Linked DNA regions of Homo sapiens. The protein of the gene in region 3 interacts with the protein of the main gene of each other region in a biochemical or structural test. Each region holds a gene or a part of one and is shown on either strand. Other genes may lie near its edges.

Region 1 (3,521 bases), on a different chromosome or scaffold from region 3:
GAGCCCACTTTTAGCCACTGGATGCTCTACTGATGTCTCTTTTGGAATTCACTGTGATTTTCAAAATGGTATCTCCAGAAACTCCTCCAATTAATCCCTGAAATGTAAGGGTAGTCTCTTTTTCTTTTCTAGAAACCTGATCCTGGCAAAATGATTAGCTTTAACAGTAGGATTAATTTTTTTTAAATGTATATAAAAATACTTGTATGTAAGAAATCCTAAAAGGGTATTTAGTGAAAAGTAATTCCCTCTCCTATTCATTTTCCCCACCTAGAGGCAATCACCCTGGAGTTTTATGTGTGTCCTTCTAGAAATACTGTGTGCACATATAAGCATTTATTATAACATGTGAATTTTGCTCTCCAGCTTTTTGTGAATATGCATGTTTATAGCAGTATCTATTCACCAGGACCGCATTTAGCTTTGCAATATTCGGTCTACTTTGAACACTGAATTTTCTGATTATTTCTTTCCCCTGGAGACGTCAAAGAAAACATGAACACTAGCCTTTTGAATTCAGGGTTTTCTTTTCATTTTATTTTCATTTGTTCATGTGTTTGTATTTACATACATTGTGCCTGAATATTGTACATGTATGTGACAGTTGTGTACTGTAGAATCAAAAACTAATGTCTGTGAACTGAACTCTTCTTGAACTTTTTGTTGTTGTTGTTATTGTTGCTTTTGGAGATAGGGTCTTGCTCTGTCACCCAGGCTGGACTGCAGTGGCACAATCACAGCTCACTGCAGCCTTGAGCTCCTGGTCTCAAGCAACCCTCCCACCTCAGCCTCCCAAGTAGCTGGGGCTGCAGGCATATGCTACCTGACTAATTAAAATTTTTTTTTTTTTTTTGTAGAGACAGGGTCTCACTATTTTTACTAGTTTGCCCGGGCCAAGCCAGTGTTGAACTACTGGCCTCAAGTGATCCTCCCACCTTGGCCTCCCCAAAGTGCATCCCTACAGGCATGAGCCACTGCACTCAGCCTGAACTTTCGAAATTTATTTTAAGGGCCCACTTTTAAATGCTTCTTTTCAGCAGCTAACTTTCCAGCGGATGCTTCATGTGGTGCCAGCCATACAGATACGCTTTTAGAACTTGAGCTTTGGAGAAGCTTATGCTTGCTTTCTGCTCTCTCCTGAGGTCATCAGATACTTCCCTTGTTCAGTAACAAAGAAAGTGAGACTCTTTCTGTTACCTAATAAAAGGCCAGTCTGTCCATTTCATTTTGGGTGCTATTAACATTGTTGACCATTTACAATGTCACAGGCCCTGGCACTGAGCACATCATGTGCAGCCTCACTTAATTTTCACACCAGTGCCCTGAGGTTTCTAGAAAAGAGGAAGGGCCCCAGTTTAGGTGGCAGTACTTTTCAATTTGGAGGCAGGAGATCCCAGTTTTCCTCTGACCTCTCTGAGCTTCCGTGTTTTTACCTCTAAGACAGAGAGACCAATCTCTGTTCAGCCACCTTAGAGGATTGTTTTGAGGGTCTATAAGATGATTGAGGGAAAGCTCTGAAACTGGTAAGAGTTAAATGTATGTTTGTGTTATGTTGATACGAGATTCCTCTGAGATGCTCTTTAGTCCAGGCAGGTTTATGGCTCACACAGCGTTCCTAGGGTCTCATTCTTCTGCACAGGCAGGCAGCTCCCGAGCCAGCCAGTCTGGACCCAAATGCCACCTGTGCTCTTGGCTGGTCTTGCGCATTCACCGAGGCTCACTGTACCTTGGTGTTCCCATTTCTAAAATAAGGCCTGTAGTAATCCCTACCTCACTGAGTTGTTGAGAGACTTCATGTAAATTGTTTAGCAGGGAGCCTGGCACAGAACAAGAGCCTAGCAGAAAAGTAAGCTGTTGTTACTTTAAGCAAATATTTAGCAGCCTAAAATGGTGGCTTTACCAGTTTCTGTAATGGTTGAAGTGATGACAGAATTCAGCCAATCCCACCCATAGTTTTTCTTGCTAATAAAGCAGTTTGTTTCTAAGTGTGTTTTGATGCGTATAATTAATACTTCCTGTCCTTGATTTTTGGCTGAAAAATGTCTTCTCTTCCTCGCACCCTCTGTTATTCCCGTAGTGAATATTTTCATTGTGGAAGAGAAATTCCCATTGGCTCATGGTTGGCATTTTATTTCTCCTGTCCAGAGACAATATTTCCACAGCCTCAAACGTGAAAACTGAAAATCTGGTGCCACTTACCACCTTGTAAAATCAAGTCATTGTAATTGTGCCAGTATAATCATTGATCTGAAATAAAAGCAGAAAATAAATCAATGGGTAGCTTTCTTAAATACATAAGAACTAAAGATCAAATGGGATATTGGAAGACTTTAACTTTTCCTCCATAATGGTGGATCTTAATTAAACACACAGAAGAACAATTTATAAAATAAATTCATAGGTTTGTTTGTTCTTTTTTAGTGTCAATTTTTAAAACTATCTCTTTTTTAATTAAAAAAAATAGAGATGGGTCTCACTATGTCGCCCAGGCTGGTCTCAAACTCCTGGGCTCAAGCAATCCTCCCACCTCAGCCTCCCAAAGTGCTGGGATTACAGGCATGAGCCACTGCACCCAGCCTAAAACTGTCTCAAAAGTAGACAGCATAATGAACTCCCATGTACTTATGATGTGGCTTTAACAATTATCAGCTTATAGTCAGTCTTGTTTTCTTACATAATAAAGTTACAGTTTCAAAGCCATTAGGAAGAATAGCTTGCTAATTATAATTACTTAGTTTTGATAGTGTAACTTTGTCCTCAGATGGGTAGAATCGTTACTCTGGAACAGGGGTGTCCAATCTTGGCTTCCCTGGGCCACATTGGGAGAAAAATTGTCTTGGGCCACACGTAAAACATACTAACGATAGCTGATGAGCTAAACCAACAAAACAAATCCCACAAAAATCTCATTTCTTTTTTTTTTTGAGACAAGAGTCTCACTCTGTCGCCCAGACTGGAGTGCAGTTGCACGATCTCAGCTCACTGCAAGCTCCGCCTCCTGGGTTCACGCCATTCTCCTGCCTCAGCCTCCCTAGTAGAGGGTACTACAGGCGCCCGGGGGTTTCACCATGTTAGCCAGGATGGTCTCCATCTCCTGACCTCGTGATCCGCCCACCTCGGCCTCCCAAAGCCCTGGGATTACAGGCGTGAGCCACTGCACCGGGCCAAAAATCTTATAATGTTTTTAAGAAAGTTTGCAAATTTGTTAGGCCACATTCAAAGCCGTCCTGGGCCATATGCAGCCCGTGGGCCATGGGTTGAACAAGCTTGCTCTAGAAATTGGTTTTCAGGCCGGGCGCGGTGGCTGACGCCTGTAATCCCAGCACTTTGGGAGGCCGAGGCAGGTGGTCACCTGAGGTCAGGAGTTCGAGACCAGCCTGGCCAACATGCTGAAACCCTGTCTCTACTAAAAATATAAAAAATTAGCCAGGCGTAGTGGGGAGTGCCTGTAATCCCAGCTACTCAGGAGGCTAAGGCAGGAGAATTACTTGAACCTGGGAGGCAGAGGTTGCAGTGAGCCG
Region 2 (2,392 bases), on a different chromosome or scaffold from region 3:
AAATATCTTTGAAAACTTGGATTGAAGGTGAGGTCCACCACCGCCCCTTGTCTCCCAATACAATACCCTTCCAAGACAGCCTGATTAATTAAGACATCTGTTTTAAGTTTAATAGAAGGGAAGTTCAAAAAGGGAAAGCACTGAGATTTGGGAAAACTAGCAGCTAAAGCCAGAAACAAGGTTAAGGTCCTCGTGGCATTCCGGACTGGGAGTAGAATGGGAGAAGGAAGGGAAACAGGTGGTGGGTTCCTGCTGTACTTTGGCTTTACATCTTTCCCCTGCCCTCCCATTTCTCCCAACAGCTTGATGCAGCTATTGGCCTGCCAGAGGGGATGTAATGCCCAGACCAACTTTTTATTGAGCTTATGCAGCTAACAGACTTGTAAACAGTGCCAGTCGACAAAGTTTTGCTGAATATTACAGCTTGTGCCCACTAAACACACCTCTCTCTGAGATTAAAAACAAAAAAACCAAAGTAAACAAATACTGAGAGAGAATGAAGAGACATATCTTGAGTCTTCCAGAAAGGCAAAATAAAAAACGCCACATGGCTTGGTCCCAGGCGTTCACCATGCCTAGAGTGCTGCTGCTATCACCACTGTCTCCCCTCCCTGCCAGTGGCTAGGTAGAGGTAGGGGAGAAGGGTCATCTTGGACATGCTGCAAATACAGCATTTGCTGGTGTTGACACCCTCCTGGGGCTGTGGTGGCAGACTGCTGTGTCAGGAGCCCATTTCCTGGGAGTAGCAGAGGGAGCCCAGGTCCTCAAGACAGCCTGAGATGGCAGCCCATACACCTCAGCAGGGGTACCTTGCCCCTTTTCTCCAGTGCGGTTCAGCATTGAGGTTGTCTATTCCCAGTCGGTGATAAAACCTGAGCTGTTTTTCTCGTAGGTTCCCCCTCCTTTCCCCAACTTGGGGGAGTAGTGGGAGGGAACAGGGAAGGATCACTGAGGGGGCAGGGGGATACCCCGGGGATCGGTGACCTGGCCCTCTTGCAGGTTCTTCACCAGTTGTGCAAGCCAGCGTTTCGTGGTGGTGTCATCTTTTAGCACCTGGGCGAAGGTTGTGTCTTTCAGCTGGTCAGGGAGGCACTGTCTGAGTGCTTCACGTGCCCTACATCAGAAACAAACAAACCAACCAGGGAGACCAACAAATAAACCCACATTTTGTGGACAGGGAAGAGCCCCCTTCTTAGACATAAATATTTAGAATACTGTGAATCTATGGCTCCTTAAGAAGCCATTAAAATTCTCTAAAGCTATATTAGGCATAGGCTTAGAGATCTCCAAAATCTGTATCCACAAATATTTTCTGAATGATGCCCCAATGTAGAATTTCATGAAAAAGCAAAATTAAAAGGTTCAATAGTTTACTTCCATTCAAACAGCTTTCTGATTTATTAAATACTGTCAAAATACTCATGTTAGAAATATATGGATTATGGCAAATAAAATAATTCAAAAATCAGTACATTAACAAGGATATCATCAAACTTATGATAACTTAATGAATTTTAATTCTATACTAAGTTATCAATTTGTGTCTTTACAGAAATTGCTTCAGTTTTATGGTTAAAAACCTTAATAAGAGATGAGCAGTGAAAACAAAACTATGGTAGCAGTATTATCAGATGAACTTTTAAACGTTTCATTTTCTTTGAAAAGATGACCAGCAGAAAGTCAAATCTGAAAACCTAAAAAAGGTAAATGTTAACTATGTGTAGAGCTATTTTAAACAAAGTTATAGTTTTTGCACTCAGACTAGTTTTCTTTGTACAAGTAGAATTTTAAATAAACACATTTTTAAACTTTAGTGAAACAAGAACCACTGAAGAACAGGATAAAATGGTCAACAAACAGGTAGGGCTTGAATAAACTCAGTGGCAGGAGACTGAGTTCACATTAAATCAAATCAAGCTAGCTCTCTTCCCAGGAACACAGAAATTGCTCCATTACGTGGTTTAGCAGAATATGAGCAGGTTGCTTTCAGCATGAATTATGGATTTACAAAGCAAAAGGTCAAACATTTCTAAAATGCATTATATCTACAGTGTATGATTTCTGGCAGAAAGATTATGAACATAAGCAGATAAAATAATTAGCTCAAGAAACTTATAGGAATCAAGGACAGAATTGGAAATAGAATTCAAGAGCCCTCTGGGCTGTGTTCCTTTTTAAGAGATCTTTGAAAATATACTTCTCTCTCTGACCACGTAGAGTAGCAACAGAAAATTCAAACAACAGGAGTAATGCATCATAAGGTTTCCTTTGGAATCGCCTAGACTCTCTGGAATTTCACAGTAGGATGGAGAGTTACAGTGAGAAGATGAAACTGATGGCTACTAAAATTCAGCATTTCAGATTTTTAAAAGAATCTAAGTTCTGTCTCAGA
Region 3 (3,521 bases):
TTTTTCTCTTTTACCAACTTTCCCTATTTTTTAAAGGAAGATCCAGCTAACTATCCCACGTAGACCAGCAAATGATGCATGGATTTAAAATTACGAGAACTCACATGGCATGAAGGGAATCAGTGCTGCGAAATACAGGAAAGCCGTTCCTATAATGGTTTGATGACATGCCATAAAGTTTATTTTTACTGTGAACAAATCCCACTCTTCCCATAACAGCTTCAGCCTTGGCAAGGCGTCCAACTGAAACGTCTGGCCATTGTCATACAGGAGGAGATGGATAAAACGGGTGGCCAGTGCCACTTTCCCATCCACGGCTTCTAGCCAGTGACTTCACCCCAAAAAGATAATCTGACGTTTTAGTGTCCACAAAAGCTTCTCTATTTATTGGGTTGTTTTGAGCATTTTAAAAAGTCCTGTGTTGACTTTAAAGCGGCTCAGAGACATCGCCTAAGGCAAGACTAAGGGATATCACACAAAGACAAAAAATCCCCACCAAAGAGGCTCACAATAGAAGGGACAGTGACTATGGAGAGGGGTGCTGAGATTTAGGGATGTCAGGGATGGTGGCAGGAACTGCAGAGCTGAGGGGCGAGGTCCTTCTTCTCTGTGCCTTGGCTCACTTGTGTTTGTCTAGAACACATGCGTGGCCCTTGCACTCTCAAAAGCCTGGGTTCCTTCTCTGTACAGAATCGGCTCACCCATCGGCTTTCCTATGTGCAAAGCCTTCTTGCCCTTCCCAAGTGTCTCCTCTGCCCATACCCTGCCTGCCCCCCAGCTCCCTTCGGGTTGCATGGCAGCCCCCGGTAAGTTCCTCTGCAGCGTGGACCATGCTCCGTGACCTCTGGTACCCAGCAGCCTGCTCCATGGCCACTTCCCACCTGATGTGGTGAGCCCAGTTACCGCCCCGCTGTGCCACGGTTTCCTCAGCTGGGAAGCGAGGGTAACCCACACTGCCTCCCTCCGAGGGCACTGATAACAAGGAGGAGCTCATCAGCATCTGCACACAGTAAGCACTCAGCAAATGGCCTCACTTCACAAAATAATCTTTGGTGATTCCAGATTGATCTCCACATTTTTTTTTAATCCACCTGAAAGTAAGAAACAAAACTACTTATCTGAGAGGACACCAGAGAGAAGACATTGGGCCCAAGGAACAGCACCTGTGACCCTGTAGGGAGAGGGCTTTGCTGTCCCACAGAGCAAGCCTGCCCCTCCATCCCAGGGACTTAGCGCAGGTAGTCCCGGGGCACATATGGGCGAGTTCAGCCAGAACTCGAGGTTCAAGGGTCCTGGGCAACTACTCCAGCAGGGAGGCAGGCCTTCTGGCTTTCCAGCCCACCCTCGGGCACCTTCGCCATGCAACTGCACCTCCATATTCCCAGGCACTCCCCAAGGCTACTGTGATGCTCCCAAGAGATGCTCCCAAGAGAAAAACAGCTCTCCCACCAGACTTAACTCCTCAGGAGCTAAGTACAAGGGGTCACGCTTCAAAGAGCAAAGTTGAACAAACCCTGGGACAGGCATCATTCAGCATCAATGAATATGACAAAAAGTGAGAAGTCGGAGGGGAAGCCGGGGTGGGAAGCTGGGGAGGCAGCTGACCACGGGCGCCAGGGCCGCTGCACCCTCTCCCCTCCGTAAGAAACAGCTGCCACCTGGGGCAAGGTGATTATCTGGGCTGCGGAAGACCCAAGATGTCAGACCACAAAGAAAACTCTCAGAAGTTTCTAGAAGCAAGAAGAGCCCAGGAAATGAACAGAGCTCCCCGGAAGATGGGGTGCTGAGACAGAAGGCACCAGAACCCCATCCTGACAGAGGCCAGTGAGGGCAAGGGGCAGTCCCAGCAGAGATGGCTGTACATCCTCCGCAAAGGCCCAGAGAGGCACGCAGGGTCCCACGGAGCCCCACGCCATCCCGACTGCGACAGGGCAGACAGGCGGATCCTTGAGGGCTGCCCCTGGCTCTCAGCTTGATTCTACAAAGATCTTCATTCAGAATGTCTAAGGTACTCTCAGCACCTTCACCTTCGACATGACCATTCTCTAGACACCCTCCTCCCAGGCACTCGAGACAAAATCCAAGTCACCCTCCACACACTCTCTGTCTCCTCACAGCCCTGGCAAAATTCAAGTGCTGGCAAAACGCAGCTGCTCCTCCTCAGCAACGTGCTCAAATCCCCCCTCCTTCTTCATCCTCAGGCAGCGCACAATCATCTCCCATCCGGGGGCTCCTGAGACCACTTCCAAACCGGCCATGCTCTGCCAACCCTGCTGCCCTCTACCACTGCCCCCACGACCCCTGGCAACCAGAATGCTGGTGTCAAAACCCAAACCCAGCCCCTTCACACGCCTGTCCAGAACTCTTTCTCACGTGGCTCCTGAAAAAGGCACACAAAGTGCTTCAGCACCGGCCCCCATCTGCATCATCTCTTCTGCTCACAAAACCTCTGCCTCCATCTATCTGAGCTCCTATCACCCTTTGACATCCGTTCAGAAATCCTACCTCCCAGGAACCTCCCTCAACGTCCCCAGCACGTTCCTCCCTCCAGCCTCCCTGTTTCCACAGAGATGTGCCTACCCCTGAATTAGCAGAGGAATGTGGCAAAATGCAACTCTGAGGGAGGTCTGGGGTTGCACGACAAGCTCCAGGGGGTGCTGTAGCTGCTAGCCTCCCGTCCCTACTCTGGGTAGTGAGGACTTGGGGCATGCAATCAGCTCCATGGCTGTTCTTCCAATCTTTCCAGAGATTTTTCCTCTGGTGGTTTTCCTGCATATCCCTCTACCTAGCACAGTGCCTTGCACATAGCAGGCACTCAATAAAAGGTACTACTGGAATTGAACTGGCTACAAAGTTCAACCCAAGGGCGGCACACTGCACACACTCAGTGTATCCGTTATCCCATCAAAGCAATGTATCTGCCTCTTGACTTTGCAAGACCAACACTATTCCCCCCAACACCATTTAACTCACAGAGAGCAGTGTCCCTGCCGACAGCTCTCATCCTTGGAGAAGGCTCTGCCCATAAGGCCTGGACCTACCTGACAGCGAGGATGTGCACAGGCTGGGAGCGCTGCACCCTCTGCCTCGGGGACACCTGTGGCTGGATGGACCGAGGAGGGCCTGAAGCCCGAGGCTGGCTGCGGGCATGCTGGCCATTCTGCAGGAGGGGCACCGTGTCTGACTGCATGCTGCAGGCCGAGTACAGGCTCTCCAGGGATGCATTCATATCGTTCACCAGGGCTTCCAGGTCCACATCATCCTCTGCACAGAAAAAGGCAAGAGCAAAAAAGAAACTTTAACAATGGAGAGCAATCAAACCCAAATGTACATCTTGGTGATCAGGTTCCAAACCTCAATCCTATTTTTCAAATATTATGGAAGGGGTAGAGGGGAAACACCAAGACAAGTATGACTGTATGGAAGCATGCATATTACATGTATTCATCATGACTGACATTCCAGAGACAATTCAATCATTAGAGCTGGGCTGCATTTCTACCTGTCTCCAGGGAGAAGCC
Region 4 (3,521 bases), on a different chromosome or scaffold from region 3:
TTTCCAAGGGGTGCTGCAGCCTGTGTTGGTCCTAAAGGTGGTCCTTTGTTTGTAGGTCAATGTGCGAAATGGAATGAGCTTGCATGACTGCCTTATGAAAGCACTCAAGGTGAGGGGCCTGCAACCAGAGTGCTGTGCAGTGTTCAGACTTCTCCACGAACACAAAGGGTAAGAGCTCAAAAGTCAATTGACTTCTTCAGACTAGTAAGGATCTTCTAGCTTCAAATAGCTATGTTTGTATTAAATTGTACTAGCTTCCTATAGAATATTGTATATTTCTATACCTTTCTTTATAAAGAGATAATTCAGAAAAATAGGTATTAAGAAATTGAAATTATTGCTTGGACATTCTCTTGAAAAGTTAAATACACGTTAAGCTGGGCCTGATGACCAATACCTGTAATTTTTTTTTCTTTTTGAGGTGGAGTCTTGCTCTGTCGCCCAGGCTGGAGTGCAGTGGCGCGATCTCGGCTCACCGCAAGCTCCGCCTCCCGGGTTCACGCCATTTTCCTGCCTCAGCCTCCGGAGTAGCTGGGACTACAGGCGCCCACCACCGCGCCCGGCTAATTTTTTGTATTTTTAGTAGAGACGGGGTTTCACCGTGTTAGCCAGGATGGTAATACCCGTAATTTTAACACTGGGAAACTGAGGCAAGAGGGTTGCTTGAGGCCAAGAGTTCAAGACCAGCCTGGGCACATAGCGAAGGCCCATCTCTACAAAAGATTTTTAAAAATTAGCCAGGCATGGTGGTGCGGCCCTGTAGTCCTAGCTGTTCGAAAGGCTGACGTGAGAATATTGCATGACCCCAGGGGCTTGAGGCTGCAGTGAGTCATGATTGTGCTACTGGACTCCAGCCTGGGCTGGAGCAAGATCCTGTCTATTAAAAAAAGCCAAAAAACAAAAAAACAAAAACAAACACATGTTAGGTATTGATAATGTTTCCATGGATGGAAACAGTGATGTTAGATGCTGTGTTTTTTTGAGACAAAGATTTTTCTTTGTGTTTACTCTAATGCATTATATAGACTGGGCACTCAGAAAGTGCATTATTTTATATAAAGAATGCTATCCTCGGGAGATTGACTTTTCTCATTCACTAATTTTTTTTTTTATTCAGTTAAATGTGTACTAATCCCTGCTGTTTGATAGATTGTTTAAAGATGCAGAAGCATTTCTGCTTCAGGGAAGATTCATGGTTTATCCTATTCCTAATGGTGGTGGCAAGATAGAGGCATCCCCTCAAAGGCTAGGAGTAATACCTCAAAGCAGCAGAGCTGTCCATAATTATCCATTATCCATTATTCCCTCCACCCCGAAAATATAGGGAAACCTTTAAAGGGTTCTTTTTTACCCTCTTCTTGGAAAGCGTCACTTATGTTATTCATCGTTAGCTTACATTTTTTCATGTTTCAAAGAGTTCTGCAGTTTGGGAGAATAGCCCAGGGAATGAATCTACTCGAAGGGGTGAGTGTAATTCTCAATTTAGGAGGCGTTTGTTGAAGTGCAAATCTTTGAAGCAGACGTTAACTTTTGCTGAAGGTAGCCCAGGTTGGGTCCCTAAGCCAATCCATAGTGTTCCTTAAGGACTAGAGAGATTCTGAGACAGGGAGGGCTTGGTCTACTCTCATCCAAGGCTGCACTGGTTTGGAGCTACTCTGGAGTCTCTAGGACAGACAGCAGATTGTCACTAGGATCAGTCTGCAGATTGATGAGAAAATAAGGCTTGTCCTCCTTCTCTTCATAAGGGCAAAATAGTCCTTTGGAGTTATAGGAAGTTTTCCAGGTGCTGTATAGGTAATTATATTAAGGAATGTATTGTTTACTGTTGGATAGTGAGAAAAATGGCTTGACTAGGCTTCTGGTAGATAATGGAGAGGCTTGAATGGTGCTATACATGTTATTTTCTCTTTACCTGAGAATATTCTTCCTTTGGAAAATGGGCCAGATTAACTGGATAAAACATAAGAAAGGAATTGGGCATTACTTTTTACTTATGTATCTATTTTTTGTCTTATTTATACTGTAGGCACAGAAAGTGTGGTTTCAGAGTAGATTTTAAGACAGTTAAGTTTCTCATTGACTTATAGACCCTACAACTACAGATTTGAGTCTGTTATTAATTAATAGAAAAGTACATTTTTCATTTGTGGTTCCTTTCTATTTATCTAGATTGAAATAGGCTACTGAAGACTAAATTTTGTACTGCAGCAATATTTATAATCCATTTTACAGGATTTGGGGATTTTTGTAAGATTTTAGTGTTACAAATTCCAATTTAACGTATATTGACTTTATTGTGAGATTTTATATATCATTGTTTAAAGAAAACTTTATTCTGGCCAGACATGGTGGTTCACACCTGTAATCCCAGCACTTTGGGAGGCTGAGGCAGGAGGACCGCTTGAGGCCAGGGATTCAAGACCAGCCTGGGCAACACAGCAAGACTCTCTCTCTACCAAAAAACATTTTTTTAAGTAAATAAAGAGAAAACTTTATTCTGAGAACATGGGCTTTGGAGTTCAACAGACCTAGATTCCAACATAGGCCCTTAAACTTGCTGTGTGGCCTTGAGCAAATTACCTTCTTAGAGTCCCAGTTTTCTTATTTTTCAGATAGAAATAATACCTACTTCATAGGTTTGTTGTATGAATTAAATAAATTATTGTTGTATGGATTAAATAAAGTTGTGTTTATATGGCATGTGATAAATGGTAGCTGTTGTTATTTCTATTGAACTTTGATCTTGTTTAAACATTTCATGTTTTTTTTAAATCCTTTCTAGTAAAAAAGCACGCTTAGATTGGAATACTGATGCTGCGTCTTTGATTGGAGAAGAACTTCAAGTAGATTTCCTGGATCATGTTCCCCTCACAACACACAACTTTGTAAGTTGCAGATCTCTTCTCTTTCTGGCATGTTGAGGGCTTTGCCAGGCATAACAGAGATTTCTCAGGTAATATGCGTATGTATATATATATATAGTTGGATTGTTTAAAGTTCTTTATGCTGTTGTTTACAGTAAGGCAATTTAGATTTCATTAGTCAGAGATATACTCTAATTTGTGATTATGAATTCTGTACATGCTGGAAGTATGATTCATTTTGTAAAAACTTTTTTGGAGGCCAAGAAATGAAGTTGTCTTTTGTCATCTTTTATTTATTCAGCATAATTTACACCTGTGTTCTTGTTGTAGGCTCGGAAGACGTTCCTGAAGCTTGCCTTCTGTGACATCTGTCAGAAATTCCTGCTCAATGGATTTCGATGTCAGACTTGTGGCTACAAATTTCATGAGCACTGTAGCACCAAAGTACCTACTATGTGTGTGGACTGGAGTAACATCAGACAACTCTTGTAAGGCATTGTTCTTTTATCCAAGGAAGATAGGGATGAGGAGTATACATACTTTAAAGGGTATTTGTTGTAGATTTTGACTGACAGGTCTGGATTCTAGACTCATTTAATGAATTGTGATCCAGAAACTACTTTAGAAACAGTGATAATTCTGAAACTAGCTAGGTTT
Region 5 (3,521 bases), on a different chromosome or scaffold from region 3:
GTGGAATTGTGGAGAAGGAAATGCTGGCCTCTGTCCGCGTTTATCTAGAGCCGGAGGAGGCTGCCTTTCATTCCCGAGCATGCTCCAGTTCCTCCCTTGCTTCCAGCTCCCCGCCCCCATCCCCCATTTTCAGCCATTGGAGGAGGATGTAGGCTAATTAGCCACAGCGCTGCCTCTCACTCCTCCCATGCAACTGAGGAAGTCGCTGGTAAAGGCATGCATGGCACAGAGGCAGGGACCCTGACTCCTTCACCAAACCTCTCTCCCTAAAATAAGGGGTCGCCCTGACACGTGAGTGAGGTTATTTTACAATAATTGCATTGAAGGCCTACTTCAGTACAGCAGAAACAATATGTGAATTTTTATTACCTCAAGAAATGATAATGGCAGAGAATAAGAAAGCATCCTGAAAAGGTCTGGAGAGACATGTGACTGACAGGCTGTGGTTGACAGCCAGGAGGAGCCAGGATACACTCAGCTCCACAAGTAACAACACAACCAAGAGGACTGGCAACAGACCCCGAAGTCCGAGTGTTCCCTCTGCAGGGGGACAGGCTGTGCTCTGGCCCAGCGCCTCTGGCTGTGCTGACAAGTTTCTAGCTAACGGGTCGCCACCTCCCCTAGAAGTAAAGGAAGCTCCATGCATATGGTGTGTGCTCCTGCTGGCTGTAGCCCTGGGAAATAGGGGAAGAAATCTTGGTTTCTATATGGCTTGACATCGGGTTCTTGCTCCTGCAAATTAACCGGGTCAGATACTGGGGAGGATTCCAGATGACAGCCTCACCGGCCAGGAAGCAACCAAAGCACAGCACAGCTTGACGGGGAGCTGGCAGAAGGTGATACAATGAAAAAGGGAAGCAAAACTAGAGAATAGTGGCTGGCAGTAGTTGGGAGGAGGTCAGGACACTGGCCACCCCCTAAGCATGGTAGTTCCTGTAGTGTTAAGGCAGCCAGTGTGCAGGAGGCCGCACTCTCTGAGGAGTTAGCGATCTGTCTTCTGTTAGTGCTATGCAGCCCAGTGTTTCAACAGCTTCCCAAGAGTCAGAAAAACCTCAAATGATGGATGGCCTGGCTGAAGTCATCAGTAGAGATAGGCCCCGGACATGGTCTATCTCCCCATCAAATTCACCAAACCTCAGGGCACTGTGGGGTTGCAGGGCCAGACAGTGCCCAGCCACGCTGGCATGATGGCAGATCTCCAACAGTGGGGAACTAAGAGTTTGCCCAGGCATGAAGAAAACGAATTTATGAAGTTCATAAATGGAGTTTATAAATGCTATAAACAAGGGGCAGCATGCTTTCATTCTGTGTGGATTTTTTTGTCTGCTTTATTCATATATTGTTGTCAGTTTAATTGAAGTATAATCTACACACAATAAAATTCAACAATTTTAAGGATGCAGTTTATTGAGTTTTGACAAACATAAACAGTCACACCACCCCATACATAATATAGAACAGGGGTTGGCAGGTCTGGCTCCCAACCTGTGTTTGTTTTGTACGTTTTTAAAGGGTTGTTAAAAAGAAGAAGACAGGGATCATATGTGACCCGCAAAGCCAAAAATATTTACTGTCTGGCCTTTTACAGGAAAAGTTTGTTGACCCGTTGACCCTGACAGAACATTCCCATCCCACTTGGAGTTCCCTCTGGCCCCTTGGCAGGGATTCCTCCCCTCCCCCAGGCAGCCACTGATCTGCTTTCTATAGATGTAGTTGCGCCTTTTCTAGAATTTCGCATGAATGAAATCATACCGTATGTTGCCTGTTGTGTCTGGCTTCCTTCACTTATCATGTTTTGAGAGTCATTCTGAATTTTTCATGTCTCAGTTCTGCACTCCTTCTTTACTCCTGAGTAGCATGGCAGGGTTTGACTCCTGGGGGGATGGGAGTACTCCGCATGTTTTAGCCACATGCAGACGCAAAGAAGAAGAAAGGGGATCTGCAAGTGCGGCGGTCAGGGCCTGGATCCCCGGGGTGCCCACTCTCACTGCGCTTGTCTTTGCAGGCATGAACAACCGGGAGGTGCTGGAGCAGGTGGAGCGAGGCTACAGGATGCCCTGCCCGCAGGACTGCCCCATCTCTCTGCATGAGCTCATGATCCACTGCTGGAAAAAGGACCCTGAAGAACGCCCCACTTTTGAGTACTTGCAGAGCTTCCTGGAAGACTACTTTACCGCGACAGAGCCCCAGTACCAACCTGGTGAAAACCTGTAAGGCCCGGGTCTGCGGAGAGAGGCCTTGTCCCAGAGGCTGCCCCACCCCTCCCCATTAGCTTTCAATTCCGTAGCCAGCTGCTCCCCAGCAGCGGAACCGCCCAGGATCAGATTGCATGTGACTCTGAAGCTGACGAACTTCCATGGCCCTCATTAATGACACTTGTCCCCAAATCCGAACCTCCTCTGTGAAGCATTCGAGACAGAACCTTGTTATTTCTCAGACTTTGGAAAATGCATTGTATCGATGTTATGTAAAAGGCCAAACCTCTGTTCAGTGTAAATAGTTACTCCAGTGCCAACAATCCTAGTGCTTTCCTTTTTTAAAAATGCAAATCCTATGTGATTTTAACTCTGTCTTCACCTGATTCAACTAAAAAAAAAAAAGTATTATTTTCCAAAAGTGGCCTCTTTGTCTAAAACAATAAAATTTTTTTTCATGTTTTAACAAAAACCAATCAGGACAGGTGTTTGTTTTTGTTTTCTTTTTTATAAATATGAATATATATAATATATATGTCCCTGTACATATACAATGTGGGTGCTAATGTGGAGACTGTGGCCGGCCTGAGCCACCAAGCTGCGGGACCCAGAGGGAGGATTTTACTGCAAGTCAGCATCAAAGCACCGGTGTTATTCTGAAAACACCAGTGGCCTCATTTTTGGCTTTTGCAAAGCATGAATTTTTTCATTTGGATTGCACTTTCCTGGTTCATGACTGTACCTGTAGGTGGTTGTTACTTTGACTCTTTTCAGGAACCACCCCCCAAGCTGAATTTACAAGTTCTGTTAGCACTATTTGCTTCAACTTACTGCGATTTGTTCTCAAAACTTAAAAATAAGCAAGCAAATGGCTGATACTACCAAGAGAACTGGAAGATGGATACCACACAAACTTCTTGTATAAAAATATGAATGCTGAAATGTTTCAGACATTTTTAATTTAATAAACCTGTAACCACATTTAAGTGATCTAAAACCCATAGCATTGTAGTCATGGCAACCCGCTAAACTTTCTCATGCAACTAAAATTTCTGGGGGAAATGAGGGTGGGGGTTGTACATTTCCCATTGTAAAATAAGTGTTTTAAATGTCCTGTACTGCTAACGAATGACTTTCTATATGTCCAGGAGTTCTCCAGTGGAATAACTATGCACTACTTTACATTTCATGGGGATGCACAAAAACAAAAAAGTATTACATTTTTAGTTGCTGTTTGTACCAACCTTAAATTACATATGTTTAACAACAACAAATCAAAAATCCTATTTCTATTGAGTTTTTAATACTGACTAGCAACTCTGAAGT

What was found.
Region 1: the proteins of GRB10 (region 3) and ABL1 form a complex in vitro, tested with the Homo sapiens proteins (one study listed by BioGRID).
Region 2: the proteins of GRB10 (region 3) and CNOT9 form a complex in vitro, tested with the Homo sapiens proteins (one study listed by BioGRID).
Region 4: the proteins of GRB10 (region 3) and RAF1 form a complex in vitro, tested with the Homo sapiens proteins (one study listed by BioGRID).
Region 5: of the proteins of GRB10 (region 3) and FYN, one has a biochemical effect on the other in vitro, tested with the Homo sapiens proteins (one study listed by BioGRID).

The regions. Positions count from the first base shown.
Region 1 is NC_000009.12:130,838,241-130,841,761, forward strand, and holds part of ABL1 (tyrosine-protein kinase ABL1), read left to right. Parts: intron 1-3,521. UniProt on the Homo sapiens protein: Non-receptor tyrosine-protein kinase that plays a role in many key processes linked to cell growth and survival such as cytoskeleton remodeling in response to extracellular stimuli, cell motility and adhesion, receptor endocytosis, autophagy, DNA damage response and apoptosis.
Region 2 is NC_000002.12:218,592,830-218,595,221, reverse strand, and holds part of CNOT9 (CCR4-NOT transcription complex subunit 9), read right to left. Parts: intron 1,695-2,392; coding exon of another isoform or gene 1,649-1,694; exon of another isoform or gene 1,375-1,648; intron 1,115-1,374; coding exon 946-1,114; 3' UTR 1-945. UniProt on the Homo sapiens protein: Component of the CCR4-NOT complex which is one of the major cellular mRNA deadenylases and is linked to various cellular processes including bulk mRNA degradation, miRNA-mediated repression, translational repression during translational initiation and general transcription regulation.
Region 3 is NC_000007.14:50,671,395-50,674,915, forward strand, and holds part of GRB10 (growth factor receptor-bound protein 10), read right to left. Parts: intron 3,265-3,521; coding exon 3,042-3,264; intron 1-3,041.
Region 4 is NC_000003.12:12,608,597-12,612,117, reverse strand, and holds part of RAF1 (RAF proto-oncogene serine/threonine-protein kinase), read left to right. Parts: intron 1-55; coding exon 56-168; intron 169-2,782; coding exon 2,783-2,885; intron 2,886-3,194; coding exon 3,195-3,352; intron 3,353-3,521. UniProt on the Homo sapiens protein: Serine/threonine-protein kinase that acts as a regulatory link between the membrane-associated Ras GTPases and the MAPK/ERK cascade, and this critical regulatory link functions as a switch determining cell fate decisions including proliferation, differentiation, apoptosis, survival and oncogenic transformation.
Region 5 is NC_000006.12:111,660,432-111,663,952, reverse strand, and holds part of FYN (tyrosine-protein kinase Fyn), read left to right. Parts: intron 1-2,005; coding exon 2,006-2,214; 3' UTR 2,215-3,521. UniProt on the Homo sapiens protein: Non-receptor tyrosine-protein kinase that plays a role in many biological processes including regulation of cell growth and survival, cell adhesion, integrin-mediated signaling, cytoskeletal remodeling, cell motility, immune response and axon guidance.